Regions from separate parts of the Homo sapiens genome. Here regions 2 and 3 are each reported to be linked to region 1. The links are microRNA targets in miRTarBase. Many come from high-throughput screens and were not tested one by one. Region 1 holds a microRNA gene; each other region holds the end of a gene's coding sequence.
The links. The annotated mature microRNA hsa-let-7a-5p reads UGAGGUAGUAGGUUGUAUAGUU and lies in region 1 at 2,180-2,201, shown strand. An mRNA with a match to its seed (bases 2 to 7 or 8) in the 3' UTR can be bound and repressed. Matches are read on the target gene's strand: a 7mer-m8 pairs with bases 2 to 8, a 7mer-A1 pairs with bases 2 to 7 and ends in A, and an 8mer does both.

Region 2: the mRNA of TMEM165 is a reported target of hsa-let-7a-5p. The part of its 3' UTR that is shown has no 7-base or 8-base seed match.
Region 3: miRTarBase lists POLR2D as a target of hsa-let-7a-5p. Seed matches in the 3' UTR shown: 8mer at 5,739-5,746.

Annotation. Positions count from the first base shown.
Region 1 is chr9:94,173,783-94,180,906 of GRCh38, forward strand. MIRLET7A1 (microRNA let-7a-1) reads left to right here and starts at 2,175; the gene lies at 2,175-2,254. MIRLET7A1HG (miRlet-7a-1/let-7f-1/let-7d cluster host gene) reads left to right here. Exons shown (of 5, transcript NR_170278.1): 2 at 2,083-2,183; 3 at 6,038-6,139. MIRLET7F1 (microRNA let-7f-1) reads left to right here and starts at 2,565; the gene lies at 2,565-2,651. It overlaps LINC02603 (long intergenic non-protein coding RNA 2603), which reads right to left. Exons shown (of 3, transcript NR_160773.1): 3 at 2,787-3,949. It also overlaps MIRLET7D. RefSeq lists an enhancer at 5,463-5,512.
Region 2 is chr4:55,424,270-55,431,393 of GRCh38, forward strand. It overlaps TMEM165 (transmembrane protein 165), which reads left to right. Exons shown (of 6, transcript NM_018475.5): 5 at 269-374; 6 at 1,107-1,906. The coding sequence ends at 1,183. It overlaps CLOCK (clock circadian regulator), which reads right to left. Exons shown (of 23, transcript NM_004898.4): 23 at 3,634-7,124. Among named protein-coding and RNA genes, the nearest start is that of TMEM165, 32 kb to the left of the region's middle.
Region 3 is chr2:127,842,081-127,849,204 of GRCh38, forward strand. It overlaps POLR2D (RNA polymerase II subunit D), which reads right to left. Exons shown (of 4, transcript NM_004805.4): 4 at 1,473-6,105. The coding sequence ends at 6,027. It also overlaps the pseudogene RNU6-395P and the pseudogene RPS26P19. Among named protein-coding and RNA genes, the nearest start is that of POLR2D, 13 kb to the right of the region's middle.

The DNA of each region.
Region 1 (7,124 bases):
TGCCTCAACCTCCTGAGTAACTCAGCTGGGACCATAAGCCTGCACCACCACACCCAGCCATGTTCAGTTCTCTAGAGTATATACCTAGAAATGGAATTGCTGGGTCATATGGTGAACTGTTTTTTACTCATCACTAACCAGTTCTGACACCAACAATCAATTCTTCAACTCGACACCAACAGAGTGTCCTACAATTAAATTTAATTCTGAAACTACCTGAAGTTAGTACAAACTTCACAGGTTGAGGGCTCAAACACGTAAGACTGCCCCCGCTTCAGATGCAGGTTTCTACCTGAATTTTTAACCAACCAGCTATAAATTAGGGGGTTTCACAACCTCTTCCACTGGGTCTATAATTTGCTAGGATGGCTTACAGAACACAGGAAGACACTCATTATCACTGGTTTATTATAAAGGATTTAAATGAATAGCCAGATGAAGAGGTCCTTAAGCTGAAGTCCAGGAGGGTTCCTAGCACAGGAGCTTCTGTATCTATGGAGTTAGGGTTACACCAGCCTCCTGGCATGAAGATGTGTTTTTCAACTCAGAGCTGTCCAAACCCTGACACTTAAGGGGTTTTTATGGAGGTTTCATACTTAGGCATGATTGATTACATTATTGGCCTTTGATGATTGGCTTACTCTCTGTCCTCTCTGCTTTACCTGGAGGTTGAGGGGGTGAGGCTGAAAGTTCCACCCCTCTAATCACACCTTGGTCTTTCTGGTGACTATCCCCCTCCTGAAACTACAGGAGCCACCAATCGACTCAGTAGCATTAAACAGACATTCATCACTTAGGAAATTCTGAGGGTTTTAGGAGCTGTATGCCAGCCAGGATCTTCAAATGGAGACAAAGACGAAATACGTGTTTCTGATTCCACTTAACAACTGTTTGACTTGTCTACAAGTTTTGTTCTCCAAAGCAGCTGCACCATTTCACATTCCCACCAGCAATCTAAGGGTTCCAATTTTCTCCGCATCCTTGTCAACACTTTTATTAATCTTATTAGCCATCCTAATGAATAATGTATCTTTTCATGTGCCTGTTGGCCATTTGTGCTTATGAGTCATATCTTTGGTGAAATATCTATTAAAATATTTTACCATTAAATTAGGTTGTTTTAAGTTACTTTAATGTGTGTTTTGCACACCAGTTTACAAAGAATGCAGATCCATTTTTTTTGCATGTGGCTATACAGCCGTCAGCATTATTTGTTGAAAAAACGATTCCCAGTTGAATTGTCTTGTCATGGTTGAAAATCAGTTGACCCATGTATGGGTTTATTTCTAGACTTTAAATTCTATTATATTGAGCCGTATGTTTTTTATTACGTTTTGTAATTTTAAAAATTAGTGCTTTTGGTTACTAAATCACTACAAAATAAATTTAGTCCCTATCTTAAAAGATAATCTTCGTAGTAGCTACCTCCTAAATATGAAGTCTGTAAATTAAAGGGTAATAATACAGTTTAGATTACTTGGGTTTATTAAAGATTTTGGACTCTGCCTTCAATCCACATATTACCTTTCTATCTAAAGGAAAGGATCCTGACCCTGAATCAGATCCAGGTGATTATCTTTGATTTAGTCCTAATAAGACCACTTAGTGTTTGCTCGCATGGGATAAATGAGTAGGTTCCTTTAAAAATTAGTTTCTATTTGTGTGTGTTTTTTATATTATCTCGTTGTATGTTAGTGCATTTGGATTATGCATGATGTACAGGACTTTTGGGTTTTGAAGTCATTGGATTTTTAATTAGAGGCTGTCATGTTTTTCTGTAATGATTTTTTGTTGTTTCTTGAAGGATAAGTTATTTCATGCATTTTCATTTGTAGGAACTGTAAGAAAACCAGCAGTTAATAATAGTAAAAGGTGGTGGTAAGAGGGTGATTTCTGAATCTTGTAAATACATGGTTTTAGGAGCGGATTCAGATAACCAAGCATTTAAAATACTATTAATGAAATACAGGAAATGAAACCACAGCATAGATTATGCATGTAGCCAAAATGTTCAGTTAAACTTCATTTTCAACGTAAGTGAATGAAAATGGTCTAATACTATTTTTCTTATCACTCACACAGGAAACCAGGATTACCGAGGAGGAAAAAAAGCCTTCCTGTGGTGCTCAACTGTGATTCCTTTTCACCATTCACCCTGGATGTTCTCTTCACTGTGGGATGAGGTAGTAGGTTGTATAGTTTTAGGGTCACACCCACCACTGGGAGATAACTATACAATCTACTGTCTTTCCTAACGTGATAGAAAAGTCTGCATCCAGGCGGTCTGATAGAAAGTCAGTTAACTAATTGTACAATATTTAAGATTAACTTGTCTTAAAGAGATGTAGTGCAGCATTTGTTTATGGCCTGGAAATAAATTAATTTAGAGATAAAGTCTGTAGCAAGTACACTGGATGGGGGTGGGGAAACCTTTTGCTTCTTGTCTTATTTCTCTGTGTCAGAATAAATGTATTTTTTTATTTTGATTTATGCTGATAATTTTATGTTGAAATTTTCTTTCGAAAGAGATTGTACTTTCCATTCCAGAAGAAAACATTGCTCTATCAGAGTGAGGTAGTAGATTGTATAGTTGTGGGGTAGTGATTTTACCCTGTTCAGGAGATAACTATACAATCTATTGCCTTCCCTGAGGAGTAGACTTGCTGCATTATTTTCTTTTTATTTAGATGATATTAAAACTCAGAAGAATTAATTTTGACATTTTGTATTTACAGTTTATCAGTTAATTTTCTCTGTTCAAGTAGTACAGTAGGCACAGATTAACATTTAAATTTTTCACATATGGTATATTTCAGAAATTTGAAGTTAAGCAAAAATTTTAATGAGTAGAGAAAGTAAGTAGCCTTCAGGAAATCTTCATAGAGGACCAGGCCCTTTTGGAATTGTGAATAGGTTTATTGCCTTACATCCTGGTACACATGTCCAAGGTCAGGTCCTGGGTGGTAAAGGTAAATACAAATTGGAAGGGCACTGTGTGAGCCAAAATGAGTCAGATTAGTCATGATTCATTTCCAGTTTGGGTTTTGGGTGGTCTTGGAGAATGTTGTAAGCACTGCTTCATTGATAGGTTGATTGAGCCAGACTTTACTCAGCAGCCTGGAAAAGGAGAGATGGGCTCTGGGTTCTACCTTTGCTCACTGGTAAGTTGCTAAGATTTCAGCTTTGCCCTCAAACCCTGAAGTAGTCCTTCATTCACACAGTGGGATCACTCGAAAATGTCAGATGGGGAAGTCCATAGGTTGTTACTTTAAAGAAAATAGAAAAAATGCTGGAAAAGGTTTCTTCAATTTTAATACCCATGAAGGCCCATGTTTTAGCTTTCCTCCGATGGGCAAACCATACACTAACTTGGGCCTTGTAATCAACAAGCAAGGCTAAAAGCTCTCTAAGTGCTTGCTGTTTAAACTATTTTGTGTTGGAAGAAGAGTTGGAAAAGAGGCAGTGTGGAGGTGAGGGAGAAGTTCCCTCCCTCCAATCATTTCCAATAAATGGAAATTTAAGGAGAAATTTGTGTTTATCCTTAATATCTAAGATAATCACTGTGCAGTGCCATTGGTACTTTTCATGAGAGTAGAAACATCAAACTTCCTTGGATGGGCCCAACCCAGGTGACTTAACTCTGGACCAAATGTATGCTTTTTGTTTTATCCACTGTGGACAGCTGCATAGATAATTGGTCTTTGTTCTAAACTGCACATAAAAACATGGGAGAAAATGACATTTGTTGCCTTTTGATGTGCCAAAGAAGAGTGGGAATGTTCTAAGAATTCTTTTTGGCTTAATCTTTGTTGAATTGAAAATATGTATAACTCTTCTGCTGAAAGTGTAGCAAGTACAGTCATGAAATTTTGTGGTCTTCCTGACATGTTCTTCCAGCATAACGTTGCCACCTTCAGTTGGAAACGTATCCTTATCTAATAATTAAGCCCTGGAGAAAAATTAATTTATATATTTTATTAATTACATAAGGACATTGTTATTAGCTAAGCAGAGTAAGTAAATCGAAATAAAACTTTAAAAATGCCTTTATGGAGAGAATGACTATCTCTGAAAGCTTGTTTTTAATGATGATAAAATTCATGATCAGAATTTGTTTCTGTTTGCTTTAATTCAGGGGTCAAAAACTGAAATACCATCAGAGGCCCAGGAGGGGCTAGTTGTAACTGGCAAATATAGTAAATTAATTTGCTCTGGTTGATAGGTAGCAAGCAGGGTTTATATACATTGTCACCTACTTTTCCAGTTAACAGGAGAGACTGGAGATTTTATGAAATTTGATATTTAAATGTTGGTAACTGGGTTGGGCACCATGGCTCACACCTCTAATCCCAGCACTTCGGGAGGCTGAGGCGGGTGGAGCACCTGAGGTCAGGAGTTAAAGACCATCCTGACCAGCCTGGTGAAACACAGTCTCTAATAAAGATACAAAAATTAGGCCGGGTGTGGTGGCTCATGCCGGTAATCCCAGCACTTTGGGGAGGCCAAGGTGGGCGGATCACCTGAGTCAGGAGTTTGAGACCAGCCTGCCTAAATGGTGAAAACCTGTTTCTACTAAAAATACAAAAAAGTAGCTGGGCGTGGTGGTGGGCGCCTGTAATCCCAGCTACTCTGGGGGCTGAGGCAGGAGAATCACTTAAACCCAGGAGGCAGAGGTTGCAGTGAGCCGAGATCACACCACTGTACTCCAGCCTGGGTGACAGAGCGAGACTGTCCAAAAAAAAAATTGATAATTAAATGTTAAAAGTCAGCGACTCCAGTAATACGTGGTGGGCTGAGTATTAGACTACTGGCTTACATCCTCTGATGTCATTACTTTCTTGTTCGTTTGTGACTTGAGGTTGGATTTTAAGCAAATGTATTTGTGGCTTTTTACCAAGGTCATATGGCCAGATAACTTTTCAAAAGCATTAGTTAAAGAATTCTGATTAGTTTGAATTAGAAACAAAACTCAAAGAACATGACCTAATTTAACAGGTTAATTTGAAGTGCATCTGCCAAGTAGAAGACCAGCAAGAAAAAAAAAATGGGTTCCTAGGAAGAGGTAGTAGGTTGCATAGTTTTAGGGCAGGGATTTTGCCCACAAGGAGGTAACTATACGACCTGCTGCCTTTCTTAGGGCCTTATTATTCACCGATAACCTGTTTCCTTGCTACTTTGCTTTGGTGTAAGCAGAGTTCTTTCTGTAGGTTTTTTCAAATGAAAACATTGCAAGAATATCAAAGAGAGCAGTGTTTGCGTTAGTGATTATAAACTGCAGCATGGTGCTGACATTGATAACTGAAAGTCAACTAATGAGAATTTGAGACTTCTGAAGTACACTTAGTTGCTAGTGTCTCCCTTTTGGTGTCACTGGAAAGTTTAGAAAGCATGGTTTTGTTTTTGCTCAGGTTTCTCTTTCTGTGATGCAGAGACTCTCAGCTGTTCCTCCTCTATGTCTACATTATGTCTGAAGGAAAGAATTTAACAAAACTTGAAATACTGCTGTTTTTCTACAATGTTTGTAAATATTTATCTTGCTGCTTTTCTAGGTTTGTCTTCTGGATTTAAAATTTGGGGCGGCTGGGGTGGAATTGCATGGTTTGGGAATGGGTAATTGAGCTGCTGCTCATTATGGTATGTAACAGTGATTTGTCTGTTTAATATGTACAAGAACTGGAAGGTCAATAAAATGAAAGTGGTTGTCTTGACTGGGTAATAGTGTTACATATTTTGTTAAAAGTTATACATCTTTTCAATAAAAACACTGCATACTTCAAAACTAGTGCTTTTTAAGTCATCCTTAACCCTTATCCCCATCCTTGCAGTAGTAGATGCATTTTTCATTTGTAATTATTATGATTTGTTCTTAGTTTCATTTTTCATTAGCAATAATTTGGTGATTGGATGGTCATTTACAGATGTTTTAATAAAGCTAACACGAGCAATTTCCAGCTCTTCCATTTTTGTAAACACTTGTGTGACTTTGTACAGACAATTAACTGCTCAGGATCACCCTCCTTTTTGTTTTGTTTTTGAGATGGTCTCATTCCGTCACCCATGCTGGAGTGTAGTGAAATGATCACAGCTCACTGCAGCCTTGACCTCCCGGACTCAAGCTTCCTAGTAACTGGGACTACAGGTGCATACAACCATGCCTGGCTAATTTTATTTTTGTAGAGACGGTTTCACCATATTGCCCAGACTGGTCTTGAACTCCTGATTATCCTCTGGCTTTTACCTCCCAAAGTGCTGGCCAGGACAGCCTCCTTTCTTTACTTGAGTAATTATTTGAGTTTGCTCAGGCAGACACTACCTTGTAAAAACTCTTATGTCTCATTTCACTAGTCTAGTTTGAGCATTTATCATTCTAGGAATGAGACGAATTTGTGCATTAGCATTCCATCTTTTTCCAACTACTATGAACAGTAGTATTTTTTTTTATTTTATTTTATTTTTTGAGACAAAATCTCACTGTTTCCCAGGCTAGAGTGCAGTGGTGTGATCTCAGCTCACTGCTGCAACCTCCACCTCCTGGGTAGAGTAGACAGGATTTAGGTAATTTTTTGTATTTTTATTAGAGACAGGGTTTCACTATGTTGGCCAGGCTGGTCTTGAACTCCTGGCCTCAAGTGATCCACCGGCCGTGGCCTTCCAGAGTGCTGGGATTACAGGTGTGAACCACCCTTGCCTGATCATGAGCAGTAATACATTTAAAAGTCTCCAGGGGTGAGAAAGTTGAAAGGAAATTCAGTGGAGTTTCCCATCCTGCCCCTCTGCTGCCTAGCCCCTTGCTCCAGTGGAAGGAAGAATCGTGATCTAGGGATGTTCTCATACTTGGGGCTTTAAATTTCCTTTATGAATTGAGATGGTTGGGTATGTTTTCTAAGGTACCTTACATGGTACAGTTCTTTAAAGTTGAAGATTTAAGTTGTGGCAAAATTGCATCAATTTCATGTGCACTGATTTAGGCGAAGATGCGTAGGAAAAGAGCAAGGAAATGAGGTGTGATAGGATTGGGGTAATTTCAAAATGAGTATTTCTGCCTGGCCTAGTGGTTCACGCCTGTAATCACAGCACTTTGGGAGGCCAAGGCAGGCAGATCCCCTGAGGTCAAGAGTTCGAGA
Region 2 (7,124 bases), not on the chromosome of region 1:
TTCGATTAGCTTTATTTCATCAGGATTTGTTTGACTTTACAAATTGATTTGGGTTATTTCAACTTTTAGGTCTAGTCTTAAGTATAACTGGTACATATTCCTTCAAGCAGCCATTACACCTCTCATAAATTTATTATACACCTGCATTTTTATAACTATTATGCTTTTTAATTGTTGGCCACCATTTTTAGTGCTTCTGAATTGTTATGGTTCTCAAGCAGCAGTTGTCACCTTGGTTTTGAATTAATGCTGTGACGCTTGCTTCCAGGACCCCTATGGTGTAGCCGTGGGTGGAACTGTGGGGCACTGCCTGTGCACGGGATTGGCAGTAATTGGAGGAAGAATGATAGCACAGAAAATCTCTGTCAGAACTGGTAAGTCTTGAAAATTACAAATCAGATAACATTTTAGAATCACTGAGAGATTAAAGGGTGTTAGCTTTGATTATTTAAATTTCTGCTGCTGAAGTATACTTGGTTTTTCTAATTACCTACCATCTCTTATAGAGGTATTAATCCTGGTATTGCAAATACGGACTTTTTTCACCTGTGTAGAAGTTAGCAAAATACAAAGTCATTTTTATCGAATTCATAGTAGCTTCTTGTTAACATATTATCTTAGTAAAACAATTGTCATTTGGAAGTATGAGAAGTTTTTGGCTCTAAAAATGTGTCTTACAAGACTGGAATCATGTGGAGACCATATGTACTGATTCTGCTGAATATGTCCTGTGAAGCCACAGTTAGGTCTAGAGATGGAAGAATCGTCTCTTTGCTAGTCAGAAGACCTGAACATTTTCTTTTATAACTGGATTTTAAGATGAGTTATAGTTCTACTGTTGCTTGCCAGCACTGTCTGGATTTAATACAATCCTGTCATTTCTCAAAACAGTGCTGGAGAAAACCTGATTCTTAGTGTTCACAGTCAAGCATGTTAAGTATTGTTCCTTGTTATGTAAAAGGGGTTGAAGTGATTCTAATTTGTTTTCAAGGTTAGTTTAATAGATTGGAAGAATAATTGGCCGCCTCATCGGCTCCCTTTTCATTTTGTACAGTATCAAGGTATAGGAATTTTACTGTATTTGACTTTTTTTCTCTCTCTTCCAGTGACAATCATAGGAGGCATCGTTTTTTTGGCGTTTGCATTTTCTGCACTATTTATAAGCCCTGATTCTGGTTTTTAACAAGCTGTTTGTTCATCTATATTTAGTTTAAAATAGGTAGTATTATCTTTCTGTACATAGTGTACATTACAACTAAAAGTGATGGAAAAATACTGTATTTTGTAGCACTGATTTTGTGAGTTTGACCCATTATTATGTCTGAGATATAATCATTGATTCTATTTGTAACAAGGAGTTTTAAAAGAAACCTGACTTCTAAGTGTGGGTTTTTCTTCTCTCCAACATAATTATGTTAATATGGTCCTCATTTTTCTTTTGGTGCAGAACCGTTGTGCAGTGGGGTCTACCATGCAATTTTCTTTCAGCACTGACCCCTTTTTAAGGAATACAAATTTTCTCCTTCATCACTTAGGTGTTTTAAGATGTTTACCTTAAAGTTTTTCTTGGGGAAAGAATGAATTAATTTCTATTTCTTAAAACATTTCCCTGAGCCAGTAAACAGTAGTTTAATCATTGGTCTTTTCAAAACTAGGTGTTTAAAAAAAGAGACATATATGATATTGCTGTTATATCAATAACATGGCACAACAAGAACTGTCTGCCAGGTCATTCTTCCTCTTTTTTTTTTAATTGGGTAGGACACCCAATATAAAAACAGTCAATATTTGACAATGTGGAATTACCAAATTAAAAGAGAATACTATGAATGTATTCATATTTTTTCTATATTGAATAAACAATGTAACATAGATAACAATATAAATAAAAGTGGTATGACCAGTGCTTGTTTTTCCTTGTGTGTCATATAAAATTATCAGTATTGATAGGCCAATTTCTAAAGCTGATGTAAAAACACTAACATATTAAATATTTGAGATATGCCTAAAGTAGCTAAACAGGAGCCAGGCATTGTTCGAAAGCATTGTCACCCTTACAGTTCTGTGAGGTAGTAGGTACTAATATAAGGTTAAAAAAGAAAAAAACTAACTCACCCAAGGTTACATGGTAGAGTCACACCAGGCGGTTTAATTCCAGAGCCTAATGTCATTCATTATGCTAAGACTACCTCATTTTTTCATGGCAACTTCAGTCGTCACCCTCGTTTGAGTATATTTTGATTTGACTACTACTTCACCCAAGTAGCATAACAGCTGCTTTCTCTCAGCCTTTTATATTCTAGAATCATATGCAGTAACATTCCCATTAATAGCCTCACTAAATTGAAGGACAATTCTACAGAAACATCCATGTTATTTGTGTGAGGTATAATAGGAGACCCAGAGCAATTCAGGTTTATGAGCTACTACAAAGGTCCACAATGTAGTCTGCAATTTGAAGAGATTGTGAAAGAACCCAGTTAATCATCCAGCACTGTAGGATGCAGCAATTGTCCTACATGGTAACTCTGTGAGGAAGATGATAGCTACTACTGTGGAGATCTTAAGAGGAGTTTTCAGCTTAAATGCCAAGTTAGAAGTAGCACATGTTGGTAAAAAAGGTCATATTTGTAGTTTTCTGCTATAGGAAGTATCAAAGGGTAGAAAACAATGTCTGTGGATTAAGATAAACTCTGTGGTTAGACAGTCTATATTGCCTTAGATTGTTTGTTTGTTATAAAGAAAGAGTGAGGAATTCTCACTAGTATTTTTTTTTTTTTTTTTGAGAGAGTCTCACTCTGTCGCCCAGGCTGGAGTGCAGTGGTGTGATCTTGGCTCACTGCAACCTCCACCGCCCGGGTTCAAGCAGTTCTCCTGCCTCAGCCTCCCGAGTAGCTGGGATTACAGGCGTGCACTACCACGCCTGGCTAATTTTTTGTATTTTTAGTAGAGATGATGGAGTTTCGCCATGCTGGCCAGGCTGGTCTCGAACTCCTGACCTTATGATCCGCCCACCTCAGCCTCCCAAAGCGCTGGGATTACAGGCGTGAGCCACCATGCTTGGCCTACTAATACGTTTTGTTTGTTTGGAGACAATCTATCTCACTCTGTCACCTGGGCTGGAATGCAGTGGCGCAATCTCGGCTCACTGCAACCTCTGCCTCCTGAGTTCAAGCAGTTCTCCTGCCTCAGCCTCCCAAGTTGCAGGGATTATAGGTGCCCGCCACCACGCCTGGCTAATTTTTTTGTATTTTCAGTAGAGACAGGGTTTTACCATGTTGGCCAGGCTGGTCTTGAACTCATGACCTTAGGTGATCCACCCACCTCAGCCTCCCAAAGTGCTAGGATTACAGGCGTGAGCCACCGCACCCAACCGTTTTTTCTAATAACAACAGAAAAGACAATTCCTCGTAGGGAGTAGCTGGCACCATCATCGTGTAACCTCAGTTCAGGTAGCTTGGTCCCATTACTAGCTTCATATGCGAATAAGAACAGCATCGCATTCTGAGGCACCACAATCTTGTAGCAGGACATAATTCCTCTGAGAATTTTTGGTAAGTCAGACCTAAGCTATAAGGTAAAAATCGCTACTGCAATAGGCTCCATTGTTGAATAAAAGAAAGGGAAATGTCATTGATAGTGATCTTAAAATATTTAATAGTCTTTCTTTAAAATCCAAAATGTGATTCTTACAAGTTATGTGCCACATGAAGCAGGTGTTATTTTTTGAGAAATGCAGGTGATAACTGAAAAACATAGCACTGAGGTATTTTTTATTTTTAAAATTGAAGGAAACAAAGTCTGGATCTAATTATTTTTACATTTACAAAAACTGCTACTGCTTGGCTCTTTTGCTATAAGTTTAGGTTCTGAATACATGACAAGAGTATGGGAAAGAGCAGAATAATAGTACACGCAGTTTTAAAAGCTATGCACATCATAACCTGGAATAATGATTACACAGCAAGAGGCCTGAGTGGAGGTAGGCTAACAACACATTTTGACTTTCTCCTCAAAGGATAGCTTTGAAAAACAAGTGTAACCAATTGTTACACCAAATTAAAATGGCAATATTAAATCGGTAACAAAACGATCCACATTTTATACAATATTGTATTTCCAAACATACATAGGTCATGAAAATCAGAGAACCTAATATAGCACCGTTGAAACCATTCATTATCCTTCATGTGTGTATGCAATTCAGAATTTCGGCAGAAGACAACAAATGGAAAATGCCTTTCGTTTCTATAAATCATTTTGGATTTCAATTAAATCTTTGCCTTAGTAAAGGGTATTCTTATCTCAAGATCAATTAGCCGTTTTTAGCTCCACCGTTTTGGAAGTAAAAATGATGAGCTACATCTACTTTTTAATTTAAAACCAAGAACCAAGCAGTAAGGACAGCAATGTCAAGAATATCACATTGAGAACCACACAGAACATTATAAAGAATTTGGTGCATGTTTTAACAACTACCAACTGATGTTAACAATGAAAAATTTACAAAGGTAAAACTTTTTTTTTTTTTTTGCACTGACTGGTTTCAATACAGCACTGAATTTAACTCATCTTTGGGCTTCAATCTTTACATAGAGTGAATATGAAAATGCCATACTGAGGCCTTCCCCAACTTAAACCATAGTAAAGATTTCAAAATCATTCCAGTATGGTCTGAATGGTAACTGTTCTGGCTGACACATCTTTTTTTTTTTTTTTTTTTTTAAAAAGACATTTCCTGGCCAATTTTTTTGCTTGAAGATGATTGTCTGGTTATACAAGACATCAATCTGAAGGTAACAACTTATTTTAACTTAACTACTGGCATAACCATTGCCAGCAGTGAACTTGCACTAGTCCAAGCCAACTCAAAAACACACATTATAAACATTTGAATGTCATTTTTAAAAGCGATGTCACAGTTTGTTTCCTAAGAAATTTAAAAGCTTTTATTTGAAAACGTATCTTCAGTTTAACCCTCAGAGTTAAGAAATATTTTTTAGATCATTAAATTCAATTGTGGTTGACGTGCTTTAACTACCGTTCTCTAAGTTGTGTGCTATACCTAGCCTGTGGGACTCCATAGCTTCTCTGAGTCCTAAAGTGGAGGATTCTGTTCCAATGCTTGTGAGCAAGAAGGATCCTCAAATGTCTAGGTTTCCAATATTCCAACACTGCTTTACTGGGCAGTGCTGTGTATGGAAGTTTTGTTTTGTTTTCAAAGGACCAAGTAACTTGACACCATATTAAAGACAGCAAACATTTTTTGTAGAAGTTTACAGCCTGTATACATTATTCCGCCAAATTTAAGAACTTTAAATGGATTTTAATATGGATATGATAATGACAGCCATTAAAAGATGCTATTTCTTTTACTAACATTTCCCCAAATGGGCAAAATAGAGGCATCATGTGCCATTGGTTCTGTCATACTGGCCTTTGACTGTGTTGGGGAAGTAATCACACAAAAAGTGCCCATAAAACAAAGAAGGCAGCAAGTGAAACTAGAAAAAGGTTGGAACTGTATGAATCAGATTTGAAAGGAGTTATTTCTAAAATTCTTTCTTAGATGACTTGAGGAGGGAAGTGCAGGGGCATCTGGAGTTGGCCCCTCCACTGCCGTCCTGAAGTAAAGTAGATTCAGACTGTCCGTAAAGATTATCATGAGAGTTGGTGACTGCACCCCAAATCAGAGCCAGTTCCCTAAGAAGAATATGGTGCAAAACAAAACAAACCACACATTAAATACATGACACCGAAATCACTTTGATGAGAAAACAGAACACACAGGTATTTTAAAATATAAATAAATACATTTAGCCATTTTTATTCAAGAACCCCAGAGAACTGCTTTAAAAGCAATTGCTTCTTTGAACCCCTTTCTAAATTCTTTCATAAATACTTACTAGTTTGATTGTCACTTAATGCAGCACCTCAGTGTTTGCTGGTGGTGGTGATGGAATTTCACTTAGTTGTCTCTCCATAAACTATATCCTATTCCACTAAATAATGTTTCCCTGAGGAAACCCAGGCAGCTTACAAAATACTGTTATAAACACTCACAACAAAACCTGCAGAGTATTTTATTTAAGAAAAACAAGGAATGTAGTGTTATGACATAGGGGGAAAAAACTATGCAAAACAGTCACATGGAAAGAAAGTATTTTAATTTTTAAAATCCAAGTTTGCTTAATTTCTTGTGAACTGTTCAACACTGTTTTAAATATCCTGAATAACTGTGCCAACAAAATTCATCCCCAGTGTTTCCACAGGAGACATTAAAATTAAAGACCAAATTATACTATTTTTTTCCTTTAACCAAAGTATTCTTTTTCTCAGTCCTTTTTGTGCAAAAATATTACAAGAGCAATTCAAATGGAAATGCTGAAATGACATGCCAACATTTCAGGGCACATTTAAAACACTCAGAATAATTCTTGAAATTATTATATTCTAAAATGTTACTAGCAATCACTTTTAGATTAGTTCTGTACATCTACTCACACGGATGCAATTTTCCTAGACCTCTGAAAAATAAACAGGCTCATTGGTCTCTTTTGGTGTCCACACAATAGGCAAGATAGGTTTACAATAGTGTTTAAATCAAACTAGGCATCTACAATCTCTTGACTCCACCACATTCAAAACAAAAATCAAAGTTCATTTGGCTATCTTGAAATCACTCCCATAAACCAACTACGGTTCACTGGACCTAAACATTTCTCAGAAATGTGTCATTTTATATAATTTCACCTAAGTAAGTGATGATTTGGGGATCCTTTAGAAATGGTTAACGCCTAAGAATAAACTTTATCAAAATGAGTAATTGCAATAAAGTGCTTGTTACATTTCAAAATGATGCTTTTAGACTGTGGTATGTTGTTTTAAAAGTGTGTGCTATTCCTTCCGTAAAGGATCCCCAGGCATGAGAGTTGGGTCTTCTCACCTGTCTCATAAAGCAGCAGCACTATCTTTTGGTAGGCTGACAATAGGCACATTACCCATGCGGATGAGGCTATACTAGTGCTATGGCAAAAGGGGAAGTAAATTAGAAAAGTGGGAGGCATGTAGAGGGTTCCTATTATAGTTATATACAAATATATTAAATATACTATAAAAATAGT
Region 3 (7,124 bases), not on the chromosome of region 1:
GGCAGGCAGATCACCTGAGGTGAGGAGTTCAAGACCAGCCTGGCTAACATGGTGAAACCCTGTCTCTACTAAAAAAATACAAAAATCAGCTGGGCGTGGTAGCGGGTGCCTGTAATCCCAGCTACTCAGGAGGCTAAGGCAGGAGAATCGTTTGAACCTCGGAGGCGGAGGTTGCAGTGAGCTGGGATCGTGCCACTGCACTCCAGCCTGGTTGACAAAGGGAGACTGTCTCAAAAATAAATAAAATTTAAGCTTAAAATCCAGTTCCTAAGTCATTAGCCTACCATATGCAGAAGCTCCATGCAGCCAGTGGCTAGTACACTGGACAGTTCAGATATGGGATGTGCCCATCTCAAAGGAAGCTGTCTGACAGCTTTGCCTTGCGAATCTTTCAAAATTCCCAGTTGTCTCCTAGGCTGTTCCCCTCACCCCTATCTCACGGAGCTCTCTCCTCAAATTCTGTAATTTCAGGTATTCTTGTTTCTCCTTGTAGCTCCACACCGACGCTATTCAAAATGGGGGCTCAATAAACATTTGCTAGTAAGTACGCAGTGCAGGCCGGGCACGGTGGCTCATGCCTGTAATCCCAGCACTTTGGGAGGCCGAGGCAGGCGGATCATGGGGTCAGGAGATACAGACCATCCTGGCTAACATGGTGAAACCCCGTCTCTACTAAAAATACAAAAAAATTAGCTGGGTGTGGTGGCATACGCCTGTAATCCCAGCTCTCGGGAGGCTGAAGCAGGAGAATCGCTTGAACCTGGGAGGCGGAGGTTGCAGTGAGCCGAGATCGTGCCATTGCACTCCAGCCTGGGCAACAAGAGTGAAACTCCATCTCAAAAAAAAAAAAAAAAAATACACAGTGCCACACAACGGAAGGGAGGCATACACCGCTGCTTTGAACCTGCTCCATGTTTGATGGACTCTAGCAGATCTGCCCCTACTCTGCTGTCATTGAATGTGCATTCTCCTTGTTTAGTTCCAAACTGCTCTTCCGCTGATGAAGAGAGGAGAGCCGGGTGTAGGCACAAATACTGATCAGAATCTACCCAGGACCTGCAGTCTCCCTAGTCCCATCTCCCATTCAGGAGTTGCAAACAGGTACTTTTATCTAGTCAAAGATCTTTACAGAAACTTGAGAGCTGTAACCACATATATTTCCTCAATATTTCTCACCGCAATTGTTAGGTTAGACCCTGACAACTGAGCCACACCACTACTGGGACTGACCCTTGACCCAGAACTCTCCCCAAGGAAAACTTCAATATGAGCTGGATATTCAATAACATGCAATACTTGTCAATGTTCCTAAGTGCTATAATGCCCCATTCCTAGCAATGAAATACAGATAAAGCAAATAGCATGTTATCCGTTACATCAAGATGGTGAACACACAGGTATCAATGTACTAGTCTTTCCAGGTTTTCTGTTAAGTATAAAATTTTTTGTAAAAAAATTATCTGACACCAGTGGCATATTTAGTGCTTTTTATTAACAGTATTACTAAGGCAACTCATCGATGCTGAAGTCCCATCCAGTATGCTATTTTTCATGCCTCAGGTCTAATAAATCTTAATAAAACCAGAATGACTAGATGCTATGGTCTGAATGTGCCCCCTCCCACCCAATTGATACATTGAACCCATCACTGATGTAGTATTAAGAGGTGGGGTCTTTGGCAGGTGATTAAGTCATGAGAGAATATCCCTCATGAAGGGGATTAATGCCCTTATAAAAGAGGCTGCGGGCTGGGTGCAGTGACTCATGCCTCTAATCTCAGCATTTGGGAGGCGGAAACAGGTGGACTGCTAGAGGTCAGAAATTCCAGACCAGCCTGGGCAACATGGCGAAACCCCGTCTCTACAAAAAATAAATTAGCCAGGCATGGTAGCTCGTGCCTGTGGTCCCAGCTATCCAAGAGGCTGAGGTGGGATGATCGCTGGAGAGTGGGAGATTGAGGCTGCAGTGAACCTTAATCATGCCACTGCACTCCAGCCTGGGCGACAGAGCAAGATCCTGCTGTATCCAAAAAAAAAAAAAAAAAAAGCCTGGTCCTTCCATCCCTTCTACCATAAGGAGTGTTCATTCCCTATGGAAGATGCAGAAAAAAAGGCACCATCTTGGACCAGAAAGCCGCCCTTGCCAGACACTGAACGTACCAGCACCTGGATCTTGCATTTGCCAGCCTCCAAAACTGTGAGAAATAAATTCCTATTATTTATAGGTTACCCAGTCTAAGGTATTCTGTTACAGCGCAGGAACAAACTAAGACACTAAAACTTTCAGAAAGACTTATCTGGTTAATTTAGCTTTCTGGTGAAGTGAGGGTTTGACAACCTATCTTTTTGTTGTATCAGTATGTTCCCAAATTCTTTCCTGATTTTACACAGTACAATGAGCCTAACAATGTTTCACAAATTGTGCAAGGTCTCCTAATAGCTATTTTTCAATAGCAATATGCTGTCCAGCCCTGTAAACAATTTTTGACTGTCTTGCAGAATAGCTGACCAGGCTTTCAACCTACAACAGCATGAGGTTGCTTTACCAAGTTCCCTAGTATGAGCTGCTTTTTATTATTTTATTTTTTTTCAAGATGGAGTCTCGCTCTTGTTGCCCAGGCTGGAGTGCAATGGCATGATCTTGGCTCACTGCAACCTCCACCTCCCGGGTTCAAGCAATTCTCCTGTCTCAGCTTCCCAAGTAGCTAGGATTACAGGTGCCCGCCACCACACGTGGCCAATTTTTGTATTTTTAGTAGAGACAGGGTTTCACAACGTTGGCCAGGCTGGTCTCGAACTTCTGACCTCTGGTGATCCACCCGCCTCGGCCTCCCAAAGTGCTGGGATTACAGGTGTGAGCCACCGCGCCCAACTGTGAGCTGCTTTTTAAATCTGCTTTTAATCACCTTGATAAATACCACTGATTAGTGCCTAACTATGTGCCAGAGCATTATATACTTCAGTATTCTCAGGTAGCTCACAGAACCCCTGGCACATAGGTGGAAACACCAGTAAAGATGGTAGCACCGTGCTCCTCAGTTGCCATCTAGCACACGCCTGGATCGTCTGGGCTGCCTTCCAAGTCTCTTCTTCCCATTCCACTGCTTTAGTGCCAATCAGCACATGTAAGTGCCTCTCTCAAGAAATAATTCTGCAGTACTCACTTTGGCAGCACATATACCCAAATTGGAACAATACAGAGAAGACAGCATGGCCACTGCCCAAGAATGACATGCAAATTCATCAAGCATTAAAAAACGAAAGTTAACTGTAGATTTGGGTAAGCAATTTCACTTTTTTTTTTTTTTTTTTTTTGAGACAGTTTCGCTCTTGTTGCCTAGGCTGGAGTACAATGGTGCAATCTTGGCTCGCCACCCCCTCTGCCTCCCAGGTTCAAGCAATTCTCCTGCCTCAGCCTCCAGAGTAGCTGAGATTACAGGCATGCGCCACCACGCCCCGCTAATTTTGTATTTTAAGTAGAGACGGGGTTTCTCCATGTTGGTCAGGATGGTCTCAAACTCCCAACCTCAGGTGATCCGCCTGCCTCGGCCTCTGAAAGCGCTGGGATTACAAGGGTGAGCCACCACGCCTGGCCCAATTTCATTTATTTTCCAAGTCTGATACTATCAGTTGGTAGGCTAACAAATTCTTGCACTAATTTCTATGAAGCAAGCTGACTTAATCATCTATCTATACTAGCTCATCTGCCTGAGATGCTAAGAATAGTGAACATTTACTGGAACATACTATATATCAGACACCTCTAGGCTCTTTGTAATAATTTCCTGTTCATTCAACCTTCTCAAAATACCCATGGGGCAGATACTATTATCCATATTTCACAATTGAGAACACCAATGAGGCTCAAAGAAGCGAAGTTGCTCAAGGATAAAAAGATTGGCCGGTGGCTCACGCCTGTAATCCCAGCACTTTGGGAAGCCGAGGTGGGAGGATCACTTGAGGTCAGTTCAAGACTAGCCTGGCGAACGTGGTGAAACCCTGTCTCTACTAAAAACACAAAAAATTAGCCAGGCGTGGTGGCAGGTACCTGTAATCCCAGCTACTTGGGAGGCTGAGGCAGGAGAATCACTTGAACCCAGAAGGCAGAGGTTGCAGTGAGCCAAGATTGCGCCATTGCATCCTGGGCAACACAGCCAGACTCTATCTCAAAAAATAAATAAATAAATAAAAATAAGAATTTTTTATTCTTGCCTTATTTCGTAGCAAACATAAAACCATCCTGATTTTAAAAGCCAACACTGTTCTTTCTCCTTTTTCCTTGGATCACAAGTTCATACAGAGTCAAGCAAGTGCCCCAAAGAAAAACCCCAAAATTGAAAACAAGTGTATTCCCTTCAGAAAAATCAAAGCTAGAATGTTTAGCTATTGAAGTGTTTTCCCCCAGACTGAGATCAAGTGACTTCACTGCAGTGGCTCAAGAGTGGATGACTCCCTCCTTCCAAATAAAGCACTTATTGCTAATTAGCAGGCCAGAGGCTTAGACTGGATCTCTCATAATTGGAGACTTCAAAGTGTTCAGAACTTCAAGCCTGGCCTATGAAGTAAAAAAAAAAAAAAATTTTTTTAAGTAGAATTGCAATTTTATTTTTCTCCAGAGAAGTTTTTCTTCAGTCCTTAACAACTCCGCTCCTTATATGGGCTTTGGTGGAGGTCATGGGGCAGCACCTGCAGGTCTACGTTGGGGTGGAGGTGTTCGGTCCTTGCCTGCTTCATGAGCTCAATTCCTCACCACTGTGCTGTGAATGGCACAACTCACATGGTAATGTAGCTTCACATCCAGCCTGGGAAGTACACAGGCGTCAAGGATGCTCATTTCAGAAACATCGCTGACTGCTGCGGCCTCTACGTTTCAAATGATGAATTTCTTAGTAGCCTTGTCATTGGGCACACAACAACCACAGTTCATACAGCAAATGGGCTGCAGTGAACAGTGCACACCTGGTTGTGGACCTCTTTGGCACGACCATTGCTTCTTCTTTGTTATCTTGGAGGTGCAGGCCCAAGAAAGATGAAGTAAAAATCTTAATTTGAGGGTGACTAAATGAATCCTTCAAGACCACTTACCCCAAATCCACATTCTGCAAGACAGTTCAAGAAGAAAGGCAAAGTAGCCATCTATCTCAAGGGGCTATGGGCTCCACAATACTTAGCACTTGTCCCCAAGTGTAAACACTTCCCATGGCGTGCTTCTTCCGTCTCCCAGGTTAGGCACAACGATGCCAAGGTGCTGTCATCGACACTCCCATCCTTTAAGAATTTCAGGCCAGTTGTGGTGGCTCATGCCTGTAATCTCACCAGTTTGGGAGGCCAAGGCAGGGGGATCACTTGAGCCCAGGAGTTTAAGACCAGTCTGGACAGCATAGTAAAACCCCACCTCTATAAAAAATTTTAAAAATTAGCTGAGAGTTGTGGTGCACACCTGTGGCCCCAGTTATTTGGGAGGCTGAGGCAGCGGGGTCAAGACTTCAGTGAGCCATGACTGTACGACTGCACTCCTCCAGCCTGGACAAGAGTTAAGACCCTATCTCCATTTAAAAAAAAAAAAAAAAAGCATTTCAAACTAACAGCGGTTTAATTCTTCCTTTAGTATCTAGGTAAAACTGGTCTTTCTCTATAAAGTCTACTATCTTCTGGTCTAGTTTCAAAAAGTATAAACACCCTGAAATTAAAACATGAAATATTAAGAAAAAAGATGATGTGGAGGCCAAAAACCAGGAATGAGGTAGTCAACAGTGTGGTTATGTGACCCCTCATCTCACACTTCGCAGAGGCACGTTCAGGAAGCCACTGGCTGCCACTGCACAAGGCTGCTCCAAGATTCCATGTCACCTGGGCCTGTGAGTTATTTGAAACAGCAACCTAACCCCACGCCAAGCTGGGCTGTTTTCTCCAAAGGAATTCTCAACTGTCTTCAACAGAATTTCTGTGCAAGTCAGCCCCAGACAGTGGGAAGGTGGTGTTATGCCTGGGGATGTGGTTTCTCCGAGCAGCAGTGATGTTTGGAGATTAATACTGAAAGCTGCGCTTTGTCTGGATATCATCAAGAATCTGCTGCAGCTCCTCATCTTCAAACCGTCCCTCCAAGCTACAAGAAAATGAAAAGAAATGAGTGATTTGGCGACTGGCAATTTCCCCGCACTCTTCTTTGAGGCGTGCTAATCTACTGCCCACATCTCTAACACCTTTACCTTTCATCTGGATTTCTTTTCCACTTTTCCTGATAAAACATTACAAAATATTTCAAACATATAAAAGATAAAAGGTATAAAAAATATACCTTTACAGTTAGCCCCACTTGACTTAGAGGTTTTTTTTTTTCTTTTTTTTGAGATGGAGTTTCGCTCTTGCCTCTTAGGCTAGAGTGAAGTGGCATGATCTCGGCTCACCAAAACCTCCACCTCCAGGGTTCAAGTGATTCTCCTGTCTCAGCCTACCAAACGGAGTCTTGCTCTGTCGCCCAGGCTGGAGTGCAGTGGCGCAATCTCGGCTCACTGCAAGCTCCGCCTTCCGGATTCCCACCATTCTCCTGCCTCAGCCTCCCAAGTAGCTGGGACTGCAGGTGCCCGCCACCACGCCCAGCTAATTTTTTGTATTTTTAGTAGAGACAGGGTTTCACTGTGTTATCCAGGACGGTCTCGATCTCCTGACCTCGTGATCCGCCCGCCTCAGCCTCCCAAAGTGCTGGGATTACAGGCGTAAGCCACCACACCCAGCCCTCACCCAGCTAATTTTTATATTTTTAGTAGAGACGGGGTTTCACCACTGGCGAGGCTGGTCTCGAACTCCTGACCTCAGGTGATCCTCCTGTCTCAACCTCCCAAAGTGCTGGGATTACAGGCATGAGCCACCACGCCCGGCCCTGCATTTTTTCATTTACTGTCTTCATGTTTTCTAATGGTATCAACCTCCCAAAGTGCTGGGATGACAGGTGTGAGCCACCACACCTGGCCAGAGTTTTTTTTTGGGACAGAGTGTCGCTCTATTGCCAAACTGGAGTGCAGTGGCGCAATCTCGGCTCACTGCAACCATCACCTCTCGGGTTCCAGTGATTCCCCTACTTCAGCCTCCCGAGTAGCCGGGACTACAGTCGCACACCACCACACC